2 separate regions of the Homo sapiens genome follow, and region 2 is linked to region 1. The links come from fine-mapping of genetic effects on gene expression. A gene starts in region 1. The other region holds a variant in brackets. All regions are shown on one strand. Distances are from middle to middle. Region 1 holds the start of ATG9B (autophagy related 9B). Region 2 overlaps NOS3 (nitric oxide synthase 3).

Region 1 (13,291 bases):
GGCGGGGGCTGGTGAGGCAGGTTACTACCTAAGGTGAGCCTAGAGGGGAAGGGTTTGGAGAGGAGTTGTGGGGGTGAAGGCAGAAGGGGAGGCCAGGCTTGGGACTCACCAGGGGCGAGGTGCAGTTGCTGAGCACCCCCGGGGTGGAGGGGCCGCGAGCCGAGGTGGCACCCCAGGCAGCTGCATCTTGTTGTACTCGGCCCCAGAGGTGCCCAAGAAACTTAGAGCTGTGCCCTGGGGGGCGCCAGAGTGGATGCGCCAGGGAGAACCGCATCAAAGAAAGCTCAGTCTTGCCGTCCTCCGCACGCTGAGACAGCGAGGCCTCAGTCTGTCCCGCCGAGAGCCACTGTGAGCAAGGACAGTCTTTCAGGTGCTAAGAACACTGAGCCTTATGGGAACAGGTGGGACAGGAAACACTGCCCCATCTTCCACGTGAAGGAAACAGACCACAATGGGGACTTGTTCACCATCACCCAAAAATACAGCAGCAGTGCAGAACCTGGGCCTGTCATCTATTCGTCACCCCTGGACTGATTGCCAGCTCGGGGATAGGGCTGAGCCTCAGTGCTTTGCCCAGGGTGATCCTGACAGCCTTGGTCCAGGCACCAGTCCTTACTCAGCCCCACCCACCGGCCAAGCCCATTCCTCACCCCCAGGTGGTCTTTGCTCCCATTTACTGACGTTACTATGTGCCAGCAACTCCATCATAGGCTATACAGACATAATCTGTGTGTTCACAAGCCTGGCCTTGGCTGTGCTCTGGAGAGCACATTGCCATTGTTGCCATCTGACAGACGAGGGCACGAGAGCACAGGAAGGGAAGTGACCCGCTCAACGGCACAGGTAGCAAGCAATGGAGCCAGGGCTGGAACTCAGGTCTGCTCCCGAGAGGCAAGCGAACTCCCACCCAGCCCAAACCCCCAGGGCCAGGGAACGGCTCTGACCTGAGGGTGTCCGTGGCGCTTCACATCCATAAGGGCAAAGGAACAGATGTCCCCAACCCCAGCCACATCCACAGTGAAGTGATGAAAAAAGTCGATAATCTCCAGGGCACGAGGGCGGAACCAGAAAAGCAGAAACAGCGGGGTGAGGAGCGGGGACAGGAGCTCCTCCAGGAGGGAGACCTGGGGAAGCAGCGGTGAGGCTGAGCAGGGGTCGCTGAGGGGCCCACGCGCGTTATCAGGACCAAGCAGTCCCCAGCGACCCTCGCCAGGGCAAGAAGCCTCCCCACCCAGTCACTCCCTAGACTCCTGGTATAGTCCGTTTGTCTCATGCCCTCTCCCAGACAGACCCTCCGCGCAGACAGACCCTCCGCGCAGACAGACCCCACAACTTCCTCCTCAGCCCGCCGTCGCGCCCACCCTCACCGCTCGGTACTGCAGCAGCTGCGCCATCTGCCGGTAGGCGCGGTCCCTGCCGCCGGGGCCGGGCTCCTCCGGGAGGTAGTGCATGTGGGCCAGGGCTGTCTGCAGCAGGAGCTGCGGCGCACGACCCTGGCACTGCTCTTCCGGAATGAAAGACCTGAAAGGCGGGATCCGTGGGGGGAAGGGGCCTGCGATTAGGAGGACGCGCGGTGGGATGTAGGGCTAGAGGGCCCCAGTGGTGGGAGAGGTAAGGATTCGGGGGGAACCTCACATGGCCCCAGATCAGAGAAACCAACACACACCACCACCCCGGGCATCTGCCGTCGCACCTGGCGACGGTGGCGGTGACCCCGAGCGCGGTCATGGCGGTGAGCACGTGCTCCACGGCTAGCACGTCCTCGTCGTAGACGGTGAGCACAAGCAGCGCGGCGAAGAGTGCACCCGCGAAGAAAACGAGCTGGCGGGCCAGCAGCGTGCGCAGGGGCGCGGGGGGCGCAGCGGTGCGCAGGAAGGCGGCGGCGGGGCGGTAGGCGCGGGCCAGGCGCGCGCGCAGCTCGTGCGGCAGCTCGTTGAAGTGGCGCAGCTGCAAGCGCGCCAGGCGGGACCAGCCGCGCGCCCCCAGCGCGCCAGGCTCGCGCCGCAGCAGCTCCACGTGGCTATAGAAGACGTGCAGAACCTGCCAGGCCAGCACCAGCGGGCTCAGCGCCAGGTTCAGGGCGGCCAGCAGCAGCACTGTGCGCCCCCAGCGCGCTGCTAGGGCGCCCCGCTGGTCGCTGCGCTTGTAGGCGTGCGGCAGCTCCCAGCCCCCGCGGAAGAGCGAGAAGGGACCGCGGAAGAGCAGCAGGTCGACATTGAGCGCCAGGCCGCGGCTGAGGAAAGCCGCACTGCCTCCCCAGGGCAGCGGGCAGCGGGCCGGCAGCAGGCCTTTGTTGGCCAGCGCCACCTGGTAGTTGGTGTAGCGCAGGATGCGGTGGTGGATGTCCAGCTCCGTCAGGGGCCGCGGCTGCACGCACAGGCCCCCGCTCCGCTGCAGTGCCAAGAGGCGGGACTGCACCTCTGCCCAGGGAACCGAGCTCAGCTCCTCCTGAAAGGGGCACTGATGAGAGCCAGCGACCCCCCATTCCTCTCCACAGTGATGCTCAAGCTCCACACCCCTAAGTGTGCGGCCTGAAAACCCGCAAACTGAGTTTGCGATCACAAACTCGCCATGACCAAGCTACATCGTCCCCCTCTCCCACCTTTCTCTTTCTGCCCTCCCTTAACCCTGTCACTAACAAGGGCGCGCCCTACTTCCTTCATCCTCTTCTAAACTGCCCTGTTCATCATCCCTGCCATTCATGTGGCCAGTAGTCATGCACTTCCTGGGGACGCCTCCAGGTGCTGGACCTGGCTTCTCAGCTCCTTAAGGGCCTGAGGCCCCCTCAGTTGTACACACAAAACAGACTGGCTGGCCAGGGGCGGTGGCTCACACCTGTAATCCCAGCACTTTGGGAGGCTGAGGCAGGCAGATCGTCTGAGCTTAGGAGCTCGAGACCAGCCTGGGCAACATGGTGAGACACTGTCTCTACTAAAAATACAAAAAATAGCAGGGCGTGGTGGTGTGCACCTGTGGTTGCAGCTACTGGGGAGCAGAGGCTGCAGTGAGCCAATATCACAGCACTGCACTCCAGCCTGGGTGAAAGACCCAGACCCTGTCTCAAAAGAAACAAAACAAACAAAAAAACAAAAAACCAGAATGTCTGGCAGTTCGTGGGAGAATCTCTCCTTCCCATTTCTAGTGCACCCACCAACTCTGGAACAGAATCCTCCCCACCTTCTGCCTGGGCATGCTTTACACTCCCAGCCCCACCCGACTCCAGGCCATCTTCGGCTCTGTCACCAGAAGCCTTCCCAGGACCTGGGCTATGTCCACATCTGGCAGTGGGGCACTGTCAGATCTCATTTGAAGGCTGCAAACCTCACTTCAGCCCAGTTTCACTCAGCTTTCCCAGTCCAGGTTAGTCAAGTCCCCCAGGCTGGCCTCTCCAGTACATCCCAGTGTCTTCCCTTCCCTTCCCCTGGAAGGAACAGGGGAGGAGGGGAAAGAAGGGAGGAGGAGAACGAGACGGGTGAGCAGTCTCCCGCCAGAGCCAATCCGAGGTCCAGCTTCCGCTCTCACCACCTCTGCTTCCCCGGCCTCCTCCCTCTCCTCTGCTCAGGGGCCTTCTAAGACCTCTCCCCTTGCTGCACATAAAGGCTGTGCAGAGGGCTCCGGACCTCCCAGGGGAGCAAGGGAAGCAAGCTGCAGAAGGCTACTTTCAAGCTGTGCCTCAAAGAAAGAACTTAGATACAGAGGAGGGAGGAGCAGACTCAAGATGGTGAGGAAACAAAGGGCAGAGCATAAGCAGTGGACAGTGACAGGCCAATGCAGTGGCTTCCTGCAATGCGGGGGATGGCTTTGAAGGCTCTGTTTTAGGCTGATGGGTCCATCTCCTCACTGCAGCTTCCAAAAGCTCATGGCTTTTCCCCACCTTCCTGCACTGGGGCTTAGAATGTGCTCCCCTCCCCTCCTGTCCTGCCCTTCCGAAGCCCAACCCAAATTCCTCCAGCTCTGAAAAGCCAGATAACTGCCCTTTCTCTTTTCTCTAATCAATGTTTTTAGCACAAACATGTAACTATATGTCATCTTATATGAGCCATCTAAATAAACTAAACTCCCTTAGGGTAAGGGCCATGCTCTCTAGGTGGTGGTAGCCCCCTCCTGACATTATTCTGGGCCTAGGGCAGGTGTCAATAAGACCTCGCTCTTTCTGCCCTCTTTCCAGTTGGCCCTTCCACCTGTACAGTCCCACTTCTTCCCCTCTCCTCTGCCCACCCTCTCACGGCACCCTCTGCACAGACACAGCCACCCAGCTCACCGGGGGGATGTGCAGGGCCTCCCTGTAAAACACCTGGATGTCCCAGTAGCTGAAGAGGTTGCAGACTGAGCGAAGCAGTTGGACCAGCCAGAAGCCGGCAGCCAGGACCAGGAGGAGGACCAGCAGCGGGCTGGAGCGGATCCTGTATGGGGTTGGGCGGGCAGTGGGGGAGAAAGGTGGGCGCCTGAGAAAGAGGCAGACCAGACTTCGGGAGTGAGGAAAAACCATCATGAGGAGGGGGATCTAGCTAGACCAGCAGCTCTCAAGGTAGAGCCCGGGGCAGGGGGTGGGTGCTGAAGTGGCCTTCACAAATGTGCAAAGTCAAACTTTTTCCAAATAATACTAATGCTTTCTGATGTTTTCATTCTTGTACTCTGAGAGTACAGTGGAGTTTTCCAGAGGCTACAAGACACGTGAACATGTCACATCACACTGACAGCTGATGAAATGTGTGCTTGTACACTCTTTTTTTTTTTTTTTGAGATGGAGTCTTGCTGTGTCGCCCAGGCTGGAGTGCAGTGGCGCAATCTTGGCTCACTGCAACCTCCACCTCCCGGGTTCAAATGATTCTCCTGTCTCAGCCTCCAGGGTAGCTGGGACTACAGGCGCCCGCCACCACACCTGGCTAATTTTTGTATATTTTAGTAGAGACAGGGTTTCACCATGTTGGCCAGAATGGTTTTGATCTCCTGACCTTGTGATCCGCCCGCCTCGGCCTCCCAAAGTGCTGAGATTACAGGTGTGAGCCACCACGCCCAGCCGCACTCTTACATTTTAAAGTTGTTCTCAGCTACAATTTCCTTCTTTTTTTTTTTTCCTTTTTATTGAAACAAGGTCTCTCTCTGTTACCCAGGCTGTAGTGCAGCAGTAGAAACATAGCTCCTATCTCCCTGCCAAATAACGGCCCAGGTCTGGAACAGTTATTTGGTTGGTTGGCAAAGAGAACATTGCAATCCATGCTTCAGGGAGGAAGGTTGTGAAGGCAACAATGAAAATGAATCGTCTGCTGGGAGGGAGGAGGGTGTAGGGATGCTGCAGTGATCAGAGACAGTCACTGTCTTAGCCTCCTGACTAGGCTTAGCTAGGACTGCAGGTACGCACCACCAAGCCCAGCTAATTTTTATTTTTTATAGAGATGTGGTCTCACTTTGTTGCTCAGGCTGATCTCAAACTTCTGGCTTCAAGCAATCCTCCTGCCTCAGCCTCCCAAAGTGCTGGGATTACAGGTGTGAACCACTATGCCCGGCCTAATTTTAATTTTTTATAAGGTAAAATGTGGATAGATACGACTCCCATAAACAAAAGCTTTTCAGGATTCTCAACCAATTTTAAGTGTATTAAGATACACTTAATGCACTGTAATTAAGATACACTTAAAAGGCCGGGCACAGTGGCTCACACCTGTAATCCCAGCACTTTGGGAGGCCAAAGTGGGTGGATCACCTGAGGCCAGGAGTTCCAGACCAGCCTGGCCAACATGGTGAAACCCTGTCTCTACTAAAAATACACGTGGTGGTGCACGCCTATAATCCCAGCTACTGGGGAGGCTGAGGCAGGAGAATTGCTTGAACCTGGGAGGTGGAGGTTGCAGTGAGCCAAGACCTCACCATTGCACTCCAGCCTGAGCAACAAGAGTGAAACTCTGTCTTAAAAAAAAAAAAAGATATACTTAATACACTTTAAGTACAACTTAATACACTTAAGTACAACTTAAAGTATATTAAGTGTATTTTTGGTCCTAAGACCAAAAGCTTTGAGAACTGCTGATCTAGATGACGGGACAAAGTGGGGCTCCCGTCTACTCCTCTACCCACTGCCCATGCTTCACCCCCAGGGCCCCACCAGGTTGTCACTAACCTCTCAGCACACTGGGCTGAGGGTAGGATGGCATCTGACAGGGTCACTTTGCTGTGGAACGGCCCAGGTCTGGTATGGTTACTTGGTTGGTTGGCAAAGAGAACATTGTAATCCACGCATCGAAGGAGGAAGGTTGTGAAGGTGACAATGAAAATAAATTGTCTGCCGGGAGGAAGGGGGGGTGCCGGGATGCTGCAGTGATCAGGGACAGCCAGGTGGGCTCCTGCCCCAGCCCCCAGAGCAGCCCATGGTTATCCTCCCTGACCCTGCCCCTGCTGAGCCCTTGGGCTGCTCGGGAAAGCATGGGATGGAAGCAGCTGGCACAATTAAGGAAGCAAAATGACAGAAGGAAGCCATGGGCCCAGGGGACCGAGTTCCGGGCCCGGGCTAAGCGTCTCACCCCAGCTGGAAGACATCCTCCAGCAAGATGCAGGCAAAGCCATTCCGCTGGTGGTAGCTGTAGATGTGGCTGCGTGTCAAGGAACAAGCCTGAGGCACGGGGGGCCTCTCCTGAGGACACCTCCCCTCAGCCCCAACAAGTCTCCCACCCATGACGCCCTCACGGAGTCTCCCTGCCAAGAACAGTGCCAGCTCCAAGAGGACCTTCCCATGCCACCTCTGCAGGCCTAGCGCAAAGGATATCTTGGTGAAGAAACTGTCCAGGTTCTGGATGTGATGCCAGGAGCCTGGGCACAGAGGGGAGAGTGTCAGCCCCTGGCATGTGATCAATTCTCCACGTTCTCAACCCGCTGCCAGAGGCCCAGCCTGGGATAAGTACTGGAGCTCCCAGGCACCACTAACCCTCTCCCACCCACACCCACACACATACCTCGGAGCCCTTCAGGGACATGAAGCAGGGGTTGCTGCTCCTCCCCGTGGATGGGTGAGTCTTGGGACCCCTCAGGGTCACAGTCCTCCAGCCGCTCATAATCCTGTTCAGGGATCAAAGGGCCTACCCGCAGCCCAGGAGAGTCCTGGGGGCACTGCTGTGAGGGAGTGGGGGTTGCCGGGGCCAGGGGTGGGGTGGAGTGGGATCCCCAGGAGGGAGATGCAGAGGCAGGTGTCATTGCAGGTTGAGCCTGTGTTGGGGGGGTGGCTGGGATAGGGAGAGCACTGTGGCAAGACTGAGAAGCCCCTGTCCCCTGTAGCACTGAGCAAGGGGGCCCTGCGGTGGGAGGGGAAAATGAGGAGGGGGAGCTTCTTGTATGAGGGGCAGGGGACAGAGAGAAGATGGAGATCCTCCCTCCCCCAGGTCCCCGGCATGAAGGAGGAGGAGGAGGTGGCAGTGGCATGGGGAGGAGGGGCACCGATCCGGGCCCCAGATCTCCCCACCGCCCCAGCCGCCTTCTTCTCCCCCCCCAGCCCATTCGGCTCACCATCAGGCCACGGCTTCTCCAGAAAGGTTGGAAGGATGGGAGCTGTTGTTGCTTCCACAAAGGTCTGTGACACTGAGCTGGGACTTCAACAGGAACAATGACAACAACATTACTAGGTGACTCAGCCTAGGCAGGCCTCAGGCGTCCCAGCTCTCAGTCACCTGTCTGATCACTCACACCCCTTCCAGGGCAACCTGAGGCCAAATCCCTCAGGGCCTGAGAGGGGCATCAGTTTAAGAGGAGGGGCCAAAGAGCACATTGAGATGAGAAGATTCCTATTATCTCCATCTTCAGACCTTGAATGAATGAAAGATAAAAAGAACAGCAGCCAAAATGACAAAAGCAAAAAGCAAAATCGTGTTAGAGCCAGGTGTGGTGATGTGTGCTTGTGTTCCTAGCTACTCAAGAGACTGAGGTGGGAGGATGGCTTGGTGCAGGTTACACTGGAACAGTATAGGTTACAGTGAGCTAGATCCTGCCCCCTGCCACCCCCCCCAAAAACATCCTATTAAAGGATTGTAGCAGGGCGCAGTACCTCACACTTGTAATCAATCTCAGCACTTTGGGAAGCCGAGGAAAGAGGATTGCTTGAGGCCAGGAGTTCAAGACCAGCCTGGGGAACAGAATGAGAAGACTCCATCTCTACAACAAATCTTAGGACCAAGATGTTAACTATTTCATTTCTTAAGAGTGTACCTCCCCCACTTCCCTCCACACACACACTACAGTGATCAACAGAGAAATGTTTTGTGACCAAAACAGAAAAGAAGAAGTAAAGGGGCCAGGCATGTTGGCTTACACCCGTAATCCCAGGACTTTGGGAGGCCCGGGCGAGAGGATCACTTGAGGCCAGGAGTTCGAGACCAGCCTGAGCAACTTAGGGAAACACCATCTCTACAAAATCTAAAAAACAAACAAAATAATTTTTTTTCTTTTTGAGGCAGTCTCACTCTGTCACCCAGACTGGAGTATAGTGGCACAATCTCGGCTCACTGCAACCTCCGCCTCCCAAGTTCAAGTGATTCTTCTGCTTCAGCCTCCTGAGTAGCTGAGACTACAGGTGTGTGCCACCACACCCAGCTAATTTTTTGTATTTTTAGTAGAGATGGGGTTTCACCATGTTGGCCAGGCTGGTCTTGAACTCCTGACCTCGTGATCCACCCGCCTTGGCCTCCCAAAGTGCTGGCATTACAGGCGTGAGCCACTGCGCCTGGTCAAAAATAAATTTTTTAAAAAGAATAAGAAAAGGTTGCATGTTTTATTGGTCTGAGGTGCTAAGGAAGAGAAGAGGGGAGGCTGACTTTGCAGCCAAGTTGGGGAAAACTAAGAAGAGGAGGTGAAGAAAGGAAAGGCAGCTATCTTGGATTTGAGAGTTGGTTTGGAGAACTTAGAGTAGAAAATTGGGGTTCTCTGAAAGTTCCATTCCGTTTGCATCCTTATCATTTTCAACTGTGACATTCTCTCAAGTCCGGATCCCACTTCTGGGACCCCCTGAAAAGCATCAGGGCTGAATCAGAAGGGAGGACAGCTGTGAGTCTGGGACTTGGAAGGATAATTTGGATACCCAGGGAGGAGCTGAACTGAGTTCCTTGTTGTCACCTCAACAAGGAGGAGGAGACCCAGGCAGCTGGTCTGGTGGCTTGCCCAACGCCATTCTTGAGGCCCTGAATCACCAGGTTTCCTTCTAAAGCCCATTACTGAGATACTGACTCAGCCACCAGGTGTCAAGGTCTCTAGGGCTTAGGCCTAAGGGCTGATGTTGGGGCCAGTACCCCTGAAATGGCGATATGGACACTGTGCTTCCCAGATTGTTCACTGGAGGCAATCATGGAATCACCCACAAAACTTGAATCCAGATGTGCCTGATTTTCTCCTTCTGTGTGGGGTATTGTAGTAGTAGCTCAGGTCTTGCATGCCTTTATCTCAGAGTAGGAGGCAGAGCTATGAAAACAAGACCCTGTCCTTCTAGAGGTAGCAAAATGGAATCCCACATTGCAGAGGGGCCAGGAAATTCCCATAATCTTTCTGAGACATCTGTCAAGATGGGTTATGTGGGGTGTTGTCTAGTCTCTCCCCCACCTCACTCGCCCAATGTCACTCAGTATCGTGGCTATTCCACCATAGTCACAATAGGACCCCCCCATACACCAAGAGCTCCCCAGCTCAACCCCAAACTAATCCTGGGACATTGTCCTACCTAGTTTCACCCTGAATTCATTCTCATTGACAGCCTCCCTACCACCACTCCCAATTCAAGTCGATTTATTTTAAAGGGCACTTTTCCTTGCCAAGCATTTGGAAGGGAAGAGGACAGATGAATAAAACAGAGCCACTACCCAAGAAGCTGCAGCCCAGTGGGGAGACAAATACGCAAACAAGTAATTACAGGGAAGAAACGAGTGGTGCAAACTCTTTGGCAGGAGCCTGAGGCAAGTCATTCTGACCCGGGTGAGGAAGGTATCTGCGAGGCAGACAGATCTGAGGCCGCGCCTTGATAAATTACAGGCCCTCCATACCAATAGTTCTCAATGGCTGAGGCGTAGGGCAAGAGTGTCAGAATCACCGGGGGAGTTCTTCCCCAAGTACACGTGACTGTGGGGAAAAGAAAGAGAGATCAGATTGTTCCTGTGTCTGTGTAGAAAGAAGTAGACATAGGAGACTCCATTTTGTTCTGTACTAAGAAAAATTCTTCTGCCTTGAGATGCTGTTGATCTGTAACCCTACCCCCAACCCTGTGCTCCCTGAAACATGTGCTGTGTCAACTCAGGGTTAAATGGATTAAGGGCTGTGCACGGTGTGCTTTGTTAAACAAATTCTTGAAGGCAGCATGCTTCTTAAGAGTCATCACCACTCCCTAATCTCAAACCACTCCCTAATCTCAAGTACCCAGACACAAAACACTGAGGAAGGCTGCAGGGACCTCTGCCTAGGAAAGCTAGGTATTGTCCAAGGTTTCTCCCCATGTGATGAAATATGGCCTCGTGGGAAGGGAAAGACCTGACCGTCCCCCAGCCCGACACCCATAAAGGGTCTGTACTGAGGAGGATTAGTAAAAGAGGAAGGAATGCCTCTTTGCAGTTGAGATAAAAGAAAGGCTTCTGTCTCCTGCTCGTCCCTGGGCAATGGAAATGTCTCGGTGTAAAGCCTATCTCTACTGAGATAGGGGAAAACCGCCTTAGGGCTGGAGGTGGGACAGGCTGGCAGCAATACTGCTTCTTAAGGCATTGTGATGTTTATGTGTATGCACATCAAAAGCACAGCATTTTTTTTTTTACCTTGTTTACGATGCAGAGACGTTTGTTCACGTGTTTACCTTCTGACCTTCTCTCCACTATTATCCTATTATCCTGCCATACCCGATAATGATCAATAAATACTAAGGGAACTCAGAGGCTGGTGCCGGCGTGGATCTTCCGTAAACTGAACTCCGGTCTCCTGGGCCCATTTTTCTTTCTCTATACTTTGTCTCTCTGTCTCTTTCTTTTCCAAGTCTCTCCTTCCACCTAATGAGAAACGCCCACAGGTGTGGAGGGGCAACCCACCCCTTCACGTGACAGATGTCCCAGCAGTTCTGACGCACCTAGGAGAGCGGGGTGGGTGGCAGGGCATATGTACGTGTTTTGAAAAAACTCCCAGTCGATTTTTGTTCATTCCTCCCCCAAAACCCGCGTTCTACACGCCCTTGAGACGACGGGACATCTAGAGATCCTGGAGCCTTGGGAAAATGGCCCGAGGTCGGCGGCTGACGCGTTACTATGGATACTCCATAGCTTGGAGGGCCAGTCGGGCCACACCCTTTGGACGTCACCCGGAGCCCACAGGAGCACCTGGCAAAAGCCAGGCCCACTTCCTGCTCGGCTCCGCCCAGAGCAGGGGGCGGGCGGATAGGCGATTCCCTCCAATCACAGTTCCAAAAGGAGGGGGCTGACAACATATCCTCCAATCACAGCTTGAAGTGAGATTGATGTGTCTTTTCACCAATCACCGCCAAGGCGCGAGGGGGTTGTCGGGATGGGGGCGGGAGCCAACATAGAGCCCTCAGTGGGATGAGGGTGAAACTGCTATTGCCGGCGGCTCCTGTTTTACCGCGTCAGCATGCTGGTGCATTTATTTCGGGTCGGGATTCGGGGTGGCCCATTCCCAGGCAGGCTGCTACCGCCCCTCCGCTTCCAGACATTCTCAGCTGTCAGGTAAAAACGGAAAAACCTACTCAGAGCGGGCCATTGACCGCCCGGCAGGGCAGTGCCGGCCCGCCGGGAGATGGAGTCCACGAGCTTGCGCGAGGCTTGCTGGGAGCTGTAGGCCAGGCCTACCGGGGTGGAATGTCACTCCGCGGGTGTTGGCCTCAATTATTTATAGTGACACTCCAGTCGCCAGCAGGAGGCTCCTGCGTCTGCAGCCGCGTGTCAGCCAGAAGGAGGGGACGCTCGGGGTCAGTGACCACGCCCAGTCCGCACTCCCGACCGGGGGTCCCCTTTCCTGGCCCTGGAGGTGATTGCGCGATTTGGACGAAAATTCTTATTAGTATGAAGAGACATTTAATGTAGTGGTGCTTCCAGGATTCAAAGTGAGTCGAAGAAGAACTAGAGATGTTCAGCAGGGATAAAGAGCCAATCTAATAGGCCGGGCGCGGTGGCTCGCTCCTGTAATCCCAGCACTTTGGAAGGCCAGGAGTTCGAGACCAGCCTGGCCAACATGGCAAAACCTCGTCTCTACTAAAAAATACAAAAATTTGCCGTGATTGGTGGCACGCGCCTGTAATTCCAACTACTTGGAAGGCTGGGGCAGGAGAATCGCTTCAACCCGGGAGGCGGAGGTTGCAGTGAGCTGAGATCATGGCCACTGCACTCCAGCCCGGGTGATAGAGTGAGACTCTGCCTCAGAAAAAAAAAAAAAAGAGTCAATCTAGTAACTTGTACATGTGTGTTTTTCGCAAAACACTCTACACAGGTTGGTCGAGAGAGAGAGACAGACAGACAGACAGATGGGAAACAAACAAGGACCCTGAAACTACAACTCGAATGTAAATGCTTTATGAGAAGGGACTGATTCCTTTTTTTTTCTTTTCTTTTCTTTTCTTTTCTTTTCTTTTTTTTTTTTTTTTGAGACAGAGTCTCGCTCTGTCACCCAGGCTGGAGTGCAGTGGCATGGTCTCGACTGACTGCAACCTCTGCCTCCTGGGTTCAAGCAATTCTCATGCTTCAGCCACCCAAGTAGCTGGGATTACAGATGTGCACCACACCCGGCTAATGTTTGTATTTTTAGTAGAGACGGGGTTTCATCATATTGGTGGGCAGACTGGTCTTCAACTCCTGACCTCGGGTGATCTGCCTGCCTCGGCCTCCCAAAGTGCTGGGATTACAGGCATGAGCCACCTCACCTGGCCATCCTTTCTAATCCTAGAGTGAATTACTTGGGGGCCAAACAGATAGAAGATTCCCAAGGGCAGGTGGATGTGGAGTTGTGTCATTTGGAAAGCCCATCTGACTGATGGAGGGCAAGAGCTGGATCGAGCTGGAGCTGGAAGTCTTGGTACTGGGAAGTAATCCACATGCTCTTGGCAACGACCAAGACTTTCTTAGAGTCTTAGTTTGGAGACAATGCAAGAAGCTGGAAAAAGACCATGCTAAATTATTGAAAGGTTTAAAAACAGTTCTTAGGAAAGAGTAAGGGTGTTGATGTTATTTAAACCAGAGAGAAACCCAAGGAAAGACATAAAATAATATTCAAGTATATATGTGTTCATTAGTCAGTATTTTTCAATAGATTATGAAATGCATTTAGTTGGTCAGGACCA
Region 2 (8,000 bases), 20 kb before region 1:
ACTGTGAGACTGTGGGTTTGTGGGGGTAGGTGACTGTGGGTTTGTGGGGTGTGTAGGGGTGAGTGTGTGTGGGTTTGTAGGGGTAGGCGAGTGTGGGTTTGTGGGGTGTGTAGGGGTGAGTGTGTGTGAGTTTGTAGGGGTAGGCGAGTGTGGGTTTGTGGGGTGTGTAGGGGTGAGTGTGTGTGAGTTTGTAGGGGTAGGTGAGTGTGGGTTTGTGGGGTGTGTAGGGGGTGTGTGTGGGCTTGTAGGGGTAGGCGAGTGTGGGTTTGTGGGGTGTGTAGGGGCGAGTGTGAGAGTGTAGGTATGTGGGTGTGAGTGTGGATGTGTGTAGGCGGTGAGTGTGAAATTGTGGGTTTGTGGGGGTGGGTGGGTGTGAGTGTGTGGGTTTGTGGGTGGGTGTGGGTGTGAGTGGGTGGGTGAGGGGGGCATGGGGATGGGTGTGAACATGTAGTTGTTCTTTCAGGCATAGGACCCATAGCTCTAGAGCTTTCATCAGATTCTCAAAGGGGACCTTGACTCGGCAAAGGTTAAGACCCATTTTAGAGATGAGAAATTAAAGCCTGGAGCTGAGGAGCGACTGGCCCAAAGTCCCTCTCTGCTCTGAGGTGCCTTCGCAGGCAAAAACCTGAACCAGCCCCCTAGGCAGCCAGGCCTCCCAATGGACACCACTCACCTCACTCCTTCCAGCCATGTACGGGAAACAGAGATAGTCTCCCCACCCCACCCCCGTGATCACCTCTGTCCCTACCGATGCCACACACCCTTCTGCCCCAGGATGTGGCTGTCTGCATGGACCTGGATACCCGGACCACCTCGTCCCTGTGGAAAGACAAGGCAGCAGTGGAAATCAACGTGGCCGTGCTGCACAGTTACCAGGTGCAGAGGCCCAGACTGGCCAGGAAGGCAAAGGGTTTGCATACGGGGGCAGCAGGGGCGGGGGATGGAGGAGAGGCAGCCATTTAGAAACTAGGGCAGGATTTGGACAGGCAGAAGAAGTTCCGTAGTCCCAGTGCCATGGCGCACACTGGCCTGCGGTTCGGGGACAGGGCAGGTACTATTCCAGGCGCTGTCATCTGGTGGCTTACTGTGTGCCAGGGACCTTGCTGTTTACTGCATGCCCAGTCATGCTGATTCTCAGGGCATATTGGGTATTGCAGTTTGTGGGACCCGCTGGATCCTGGAAACAAATACCAGGATCAAGGGCACACCAGGAGTCGTAGTTTGAGGAAGCCGGGGCCTGCTGAGAATTTCTGTGGGCTATTTGGTTTGGGGACCAGGCATGCAGATGCTGGAGATTAGAGCTGCTTGTTGCATGTTGAACCTGCAGCATGACCATGCATGATGTGGTTTGGGGTGAGGGTGACATTGTGGTTTGAGGGGACACAGGGTGTGTTAGATATGGGGTAATCGAGGGCACATGTGGTTTGGGGTGACCGGAGTGGTGGAGGAAGAATGGGCGAGGTCTGTGGGTCTGGTTTGAGCCTCTCCCCCTCTCTCTCCCTTCCAGCTAGCCAAAGTCACCATCGTGGACCACCACGCCGCCACGGCCTCTTTCATGAAGCACCTGGAGAATGAGCAGAAGGCCAGGGGGGGCTGCCCTGCAGACTGGGCCTGGATCGTGCCCCCCATCTCGGGCAGCCTCACTCCTGTTTTCCATCAGGAGATGGTCAACTATTTCCTGTCCCCGGCCTTCCGCTACCAGGTGCCCACCCTAACTGGCTCTGCCAGCCTGGGCCCAGCTCTAATTCTAAGCAGCCCCTGGGGACCTCTAACCTTTCCTTTTCTTTACCTCCCCTCCCAACCCCATCATCTCTCTGCAGCCAGACCCCTGGAAGGGGAGTGCCGCCAAGGGCACCGGCATCACCAGGAAGAAGACCTTTAAAGAAGTGGCCAAGTGGGTCCCCTGGGAGCCCCGCTCTCCCACACACACCCTGGGGGCCCCACTCTCCCCCACACACCCTGGGGGACCCTGCCCCAGCAGTGTTCTGGGCCTACCACTCAGTATCCCAAAACCCTGTTGTGAGGGGGTTGGACCCTTGCCTGGGGAGGCCCTGCCTCTGTGCACCCAGGACACCCTCACACCTTCCTCTCCCGCAGCGCCGTGAAGATCTCCGCCTCGCTCATGGGCACGGTGATGGCGAAGCGAGTGAAGGCGACAATCCTGTATGGCTCCGAGACCGGCCGGGCCCAGAGCTACGCACAGCAGCTGGGGAGACTCTTCCGGAAGGCTTTTGATCCCCGGGTAGGGCTGAGCCCAGGGGAGCAGGGAGCTAGAAAGAGGGGGCTCTATCAGCATCTTCAGGGGTGCCCTGGAGGACAGGAAGTGTTACAAGTCAGGACTCATGAGGAACCCGGAACCACAGGTGTTCAGAGATCAAGTTGGGGCCTGAATCTTGCACTGCCAGGGAGGCCAGAGTGAGGAGGGCAGGGCCTCCGGGGGCCACAGCACCCAGGACATCTGTCTTCCCACCCACAGGTCCTGTGTATGGATGAGTATGACGTGGTGTCCCTCGAACACGAGACGCTGGTGCTGGTGGTAACCAGCACATTTGGGAATGGGGATCCCCCGGAGAATGGAGAGGTGAGAACTTCCAGGAAAGGGGCTGCTGGGAATGAGGAGAGACTCAGAATTGGAGTGACTGGGCAGGAACCTCTGCCCAACACACACACACACACACACACACACACACACACACACACACACACACACACACACACACACACACACACGCCAGGATGGAAAGGGAGATGCTAAGAGACCCCTGGAGCCTGAAACCCCACACAAGCTACGCTCCCAGCCCACCCATGTGGCTGCCTCCCTGCAAGCACATTTGCTTAACTGCGCGTCCCCAAGTCATTTCCATTATCAGTGCAAGTTTTTAATACAAGGAAGGCACATCCTGGCTGACCAAGAGGTTAGACTGTGCTCGGGCACTGACAAGAAAAACAGGGATACGTCACTGAGGGCGGCTTCTAGGATGCGGGTAATGTTTCTTAATGGGATACTGGTTACACAGGTGTGTTCAGTTTGTAAAAATCCACAGAGCTGTACATTTACAACATGTGCAACACTATTCCAGCATTTTATTTTATTTGTTTTATTTATTTTGAGAACCTATTTACGTTGCCCAGGCTGGCCTTGAACTCCTAGCCTCAAGAGATCCTCCTGCCGCAGGCTCCTTTTTCAAAAGAAGAAATTGAGCGCTGTTTAGATGCCAACATAGATTAAATAACTTCACTTTTTAAAAAGAAACACAAAGCTAGAGTACCATCATTGAATTCCTTCTCTTGCAAGCTTAGGTATCTCTGAGGTGCCCCAGGCTAGGCTCATTTCTGAGTCTTACCTGCTCCAGCTTCTAGGTGTTAAAGGCCTTATTAGCACTAAGTACTTCCTCAGTACTCTTTTTTCTTTTTTCCTTTGAGACAGGGTCTCACTTTGTGGCCCAGGCTGGAGTGCAGTAGTACAATCACGGCTCACTGCAGCCTCAACCTCCTAGACTCAAGCAATCCTCCCACTTCAACCTCCCAAGTAGTTGGGACTACAGGCGCATGCCATGATGCCTAGCTAATTTTTGTATTTTTTATAGAGATGGGGTTTCGCCATGTTGCCCAGGCTGGTCTCTAACTCCTGGGTTCAAGCAATCCACCTGCCTCGGCCTCCCAAAGTGCTG[C/G]GATTATAGACGTGAGCCACTGCACCTGGCCCTCAGTATCTTAAGCAAGTTGGAATCTCGTGAAACCCTTTTTGCTGCCTTAGTGTCCGTTTCAGCCCTCATTCTGACCTACCTTTTCAAGAAAAATAGCACCAGCAATTGACTTTTTTTTAGCATAAAGGTGTATAGACACCCATATAACCTACAGCCTTCACAAGGCATAGCACATTTTCACCACCCTGGAAAGTTCCCTCATCAGTTCCTCACGTGAATCCCTTCCCAGTCTGTCTCCCTGCCAGAAGTGTCTGTCACCACAGAATAGTTTCGCCTGCTCTAGAACGGCACCTAGATGGAAGCACGCAGTGTTGCGGCGTCTCCTGCTGAGGCTGTTTTTGAGGCGCACTCGTGTTGCTGCGTGACTCAGTATTTCACTCATTCTGCTGCTGAGTGCCGTTCATTGTGTGAATATCCCCAGTTTGTTTACCCATTCTCTTGTTGGTGACACTTGGGCTGTTTCCAGGTCGGGGCTATTATGAATAAACCTGTTATGAACATTCTTGTACCCGGCTTTTGTGGGCTTATGTTTTTATTTCTCTTGGGTAAATACCTAGGAGTAGAATTGGTAGGTCATAGGGTAGATGCATGTTTAATCTTTCACTTTTTTAAAAAATAAAACTGCCAGGCCAGGCGCGGTGGCTCACGCCTGTGATCCCAGCACTTTGGGAGGCCCAGGTGGGTGGATCACTTGAGGTCAGAAGCTCAAGACCAGCCTGGCCAACATGGCAAAACCCTGTCTCTACTAAAAATACAAAAATTAGCTGGGCATGGTGGCGCACGCCTATAGTCCTAGCTACTCAGGAGGCTAGGCGGGAGAATTGCTTGAACCTGGGAGGTGGAGGTTGCAGTGAGCCGAGATCACGCCACTGCACTCCAGCCTGGGTGACAGAGCAAGAATTCTACTTAAAATAAAATACAAATAAATAAAATAAAACTGTCAAACAGCAAAGCAAATTAAACTGCCCTTTAACATCTGTGCAGTTCAATGTATGTTAATTTTATCCCAAATTTTTAACAAATCTAGGAATACAGCTCACAGAAAATGGGGTATATTCACTAAAAATAAGGAATATTTATAGCAAATTTGTTTGTAATACCCCACACTGGAAACAATTCAAATGACCATCGACAAATACTGATAAATTGTGGTATATTCAAGTGCCATATCGCACTAAGTGTGAACGAAACACAACCACACACAACAGTGCAGGTGAATCTCAAAAAATGTGAAGAGAAGAAAAAGCCAGACCAAAGAATACATACTGTACTACAGGGTTCACTTTATATAAAGTTCAGAAACAGGCAGAACTAATCCACGGAGTTAGAAATTAGGAGAGGAGTTAGTCACTGGGATGGGGGTGGCAGTGACAGGAAGAAGGCACGAAGTTGGCTTCTAGGATGCGGGTAATGTTTGTTTGTTTGTTTGTTTGTTTGTTTTTGTTTTTGAGCTGGAGTCTCACTCTGTTGCCCAGGCTGGAGTGCAATGGCGTGATCTCGGCTCACTGCAACCTCCGCCTCCCCGGTTCAAGCGATTCTCCTGCCTCAGCCTCCCGAGTAGCTGGGATTACAGGTGCCCGCCACCATGGCCAGCTAATTTTTGTGTTTTTAGTAGAGACGCGGTTTCACCATGTTGGCCAGGCTGGTCTTGAATCCCTGACCTCAGCCTCCCAAAGTGCTGGGATTACAGGCGTGAGCCACCACGCCCAGCCACGGGTAATGTTTCTCGATGGGATGCTGGTTGCACAGGTGTGTTCAGTTTGTGAAAACTTACAGAGTTGTACATTTACAACATGTGTGCACCTCTGGACTTGTGTTGCACGTTGACAAAACATTCAAAAATGAAATTCAAATCGTTCTTGCTAACTCTGGCGCACTTGGGAACCAGCACCCAGAGGCATCTGCAGTTGAGCACCAGATGCAGTTCCTTCCAGCTTCCTTCCCCCTGGGAGGTCCGCTTGATGCCACTTCTTCATGGCAGCACAAACAAGGCCATGGTCTTCTGAGGAGGGCAACCTGCACAATGTCTGCTAGTGACCAGGACACTGCTGAAGGAACTGAGAGTTTGTCCACCCATGAAATCCACTAAAACAGGAAAGATTTTGCTCTAGCCGTTGTTAGCCAGGAGTGAGGAAAGAGCTGTGCCCTCCCCTGCAGCTGCGAGGACGATCTGCCTGCCCCAACAAGTGGGGATTCAGCAACTCCACTTCTAAGGATTACCCAGCTGAAGCATTTAAAAGTGGGAGCAAGGCACACGTACAAGGGCGTTTGAGAGAGCACCTGTTCCCAGACCACCGAGCTGCCCTTCAGTCTCAGTGAAGTACAATGTAGCCACTAAAAAGACTGAGGTCATGTTTTGGAAAGTCCAGGCCGGAGGATCGCTTGAGCCCAGGAGTTCAAGGCCAGACTGAACAACACAGCGAGACTCCATCTCTTCAGAAAATTTAAAAATTAACCAAGAGTGGTGGCACGCACCTATAGATCTAGCTACTAGGAAGGCAGAAAAATCCCTTAAGCCCAGGAGTCTGAGGTTACAGTGAATGATGATGGAGCCACTGCACCCCAACCTGGGCGACAGAGCAAGACCCATATCTAAAAACAATACTACTACTTACGTCAATATTGTTGTATTGACCTGGAGGGATGTCTGCAATAAATTATTGATTAAAACCAAGGAAGTACAGTATGGTACCACTTTTACTTAAAAAAAAACTATAAATATGCACATGCACGTAAGTTCAAGGAAAAAGGGCTGGAAGGTTAACACCTGTCAATGGCGCATATGCCCGGAGGGAAGATGGGGTGGTCTTTGTCTTATCACTTTACACATTTCTGTAATGTCATTTTTCAAAAACATCAGATCGCTTTTGAAATTTTCAAAACAAATAAAAATTAAGTTACAAATCAATAATAATGAGGATCAGCTGGTACAGTTTTAAACTTCTATGTAGTTTGAAATGAAACAAAACTAACCCTGATGCAAACACTCCCCTCGCCAGAGCTTTGCAGCTGCCCTGATGGAGATGTCCGGCCCCTACAACAGCTCCCCTCGGCCGGAACAGCACAAGTGAGTTGGGTGAGAGTTTGGGGGAGCTGGGGGAGCTGATGCATTTGGAGACACAAACAGAAAGGGGGTCTGAAAAGCTCTCCCTCTGTGCCTCAAGTCGTTTTCCCACCAAAAGCCAGGGCTCCAGGATGCCCTCCATTCCAGGCTGCAATGGCAGTCCAGACCTGCCTGCTTCTGAGAGCCGGGACAGTCCTGAGGTCTTCAGAGATGGGGGTGTGGTGTGTCAGGGCCCCAGGCTCGGAACCCCAGGGATGCTGGCCCTCAGCCCCTCCCAAGGGCAGGGCCTTTCCTGTCCCAGAGGCAGAGACCCTGAAGCCGTCCCTGGGGCTGGGGCTGGGCCTAGCCTGTATCCCCAGGGCCCTGTGACAACCTTGTCTTTGTCCTCTCTTGCCAGGAGTTATAAGATCCGCTTCAACAGCATCTCCTGCTCAGACCCACTGGTGTCCTCTTGGCGGCGGAAGAGGAAGGAGTCCAGTAACACAGACAGTGCAGGGGCCCTGGGCACCCTCAGGTCAGGGCCTCACCAAGAGGGGTGCAACGGGTGGGCAAGCTGCCTGGGCAAACGTGGCCTGCAAAGGGAGCTCCACTGACGACCCCTGCACCCCAGGTTCTGTGTGTTCGGGCTCGGCTCCCGGGCATACCCCCACTTCTGCGCCTTTGCTCGTGCCGTGGACACACGGCTGGAGGAACTGGGCGGGGAGCGGCTGCTGCAGCTGGGCCAGGGCGACGAGCTGTGCGGCCAGGAGGAGGCCTTCCGAGGCTGGGCCCAGGCTGCCTTCCAGGTGAGCCCAGCCCAGCCCCTGCTCTGACTCCTGCCCCCTGGGATGCCTCCTCCTGCCTCACTCTGCCCTGATTCTGTTTGGTTCTTTGGTCCCTTCCTGTTCCTTCCAAAATCCACCCTCATCTCTCCATGGCATAGCCAGCTCTTCTGGGTCAGGGGCAGAGGATGACATGGCCCTGCCGACCACAGGGGTGCCTAGCCCAGGCAGAAGTGCAGCCGAAAGAGAGCAGGCAGGGCCCTGGCAGGAGGGAGCTTCAGCCAGGCACAGGCTGGGCCTCACAAGTGGGCGCACAAAGGGAGGGGGTGCAGGGCAGGGCAGGGGACCCCACCCAGGATGGGCAGGATGGAGGGAGAAGGAAGGGACAGAGAGAAGGTCAGACAGAGGCAAGGGCTGAAGCTGAGGCCAGCACAGAAGCCACAGGAAGCCAGAGGCCAGACAGCCTGGGGC

Evidence for each region.
Region 2: its variant is fine-mapped to the expression of ATG9B in whole blood (TOPMed, PIP above 0.99).

What each region holds. Positions count from the first base shown.
Region 1 is chr7:151,016,927-151,030,217 of GRCh38, forward strand. ATG9B (autophagy related 9B) reads right to left here and starts at 7,568. Exons shown (of 14, transcript NM_001317056.2): 1 at 6,948-7,568; 2 at 6,761-6,804; 3 at 6,519-6,583; 4 at 6,119-6,280; 5 at 4,262-4,403; 6 at 1,694-2,448; 7 at 1,368-1,521; 8 at 945-1,124; 9 at 110-346. The coding sequence starts at 7,497. It overlaps LOC124901777 (a long non-coding RNA gene), which reads right to left and starts at 11,332. Exons shown (of 3, transcript XR_007060593.1): 1 at 11,037-11,332; 2 at 9,881-10,086; 3 at 8,069-8,107. It overlaps ABCB8 (ATP binding cassette subfamily B member 8), which reads left to right and starts at 11,524. Exons shown (of 16, transcript NM_007188.5): 1 at 11,524-11,684. The coding sequence starts at 11,590. RefSeq lists a silencer at 2,115-2,184 and enhancers at 8,479-9,083, 9,689-10,292, 10,293-10,897, 11,503-12,107, 11,547-11,856 and 1 more.
Region 2 is chr7:150,999,724-151,007,723 of GRCh38, forward strand. It overlaps NOS3 (nitric oxide synthase 3), which reads left to right. Exons shown (of 27, transcript NM_000603.5): 10 at 775-876; 11 at 1,508-1,702; 12 at 1,821-1,894; 13 at 2,098-2,242; 14 at 2,477-2,581; 15 at 6,704-6,771; 16 at 7,166-7,282; 17 at 7,379-7,553. Among named protein-coding and RNA genes, the nearest start is that of NOS3, 13 kb to the left of the region's middle. RefSeq lists a silencer at 503-665 and enhancers at 1,519-2,718, 1,996-2,496, 6,933-7,513, 7,514-8,000. The variant C/G (reference allele first, on the strand shown) is at 3,672.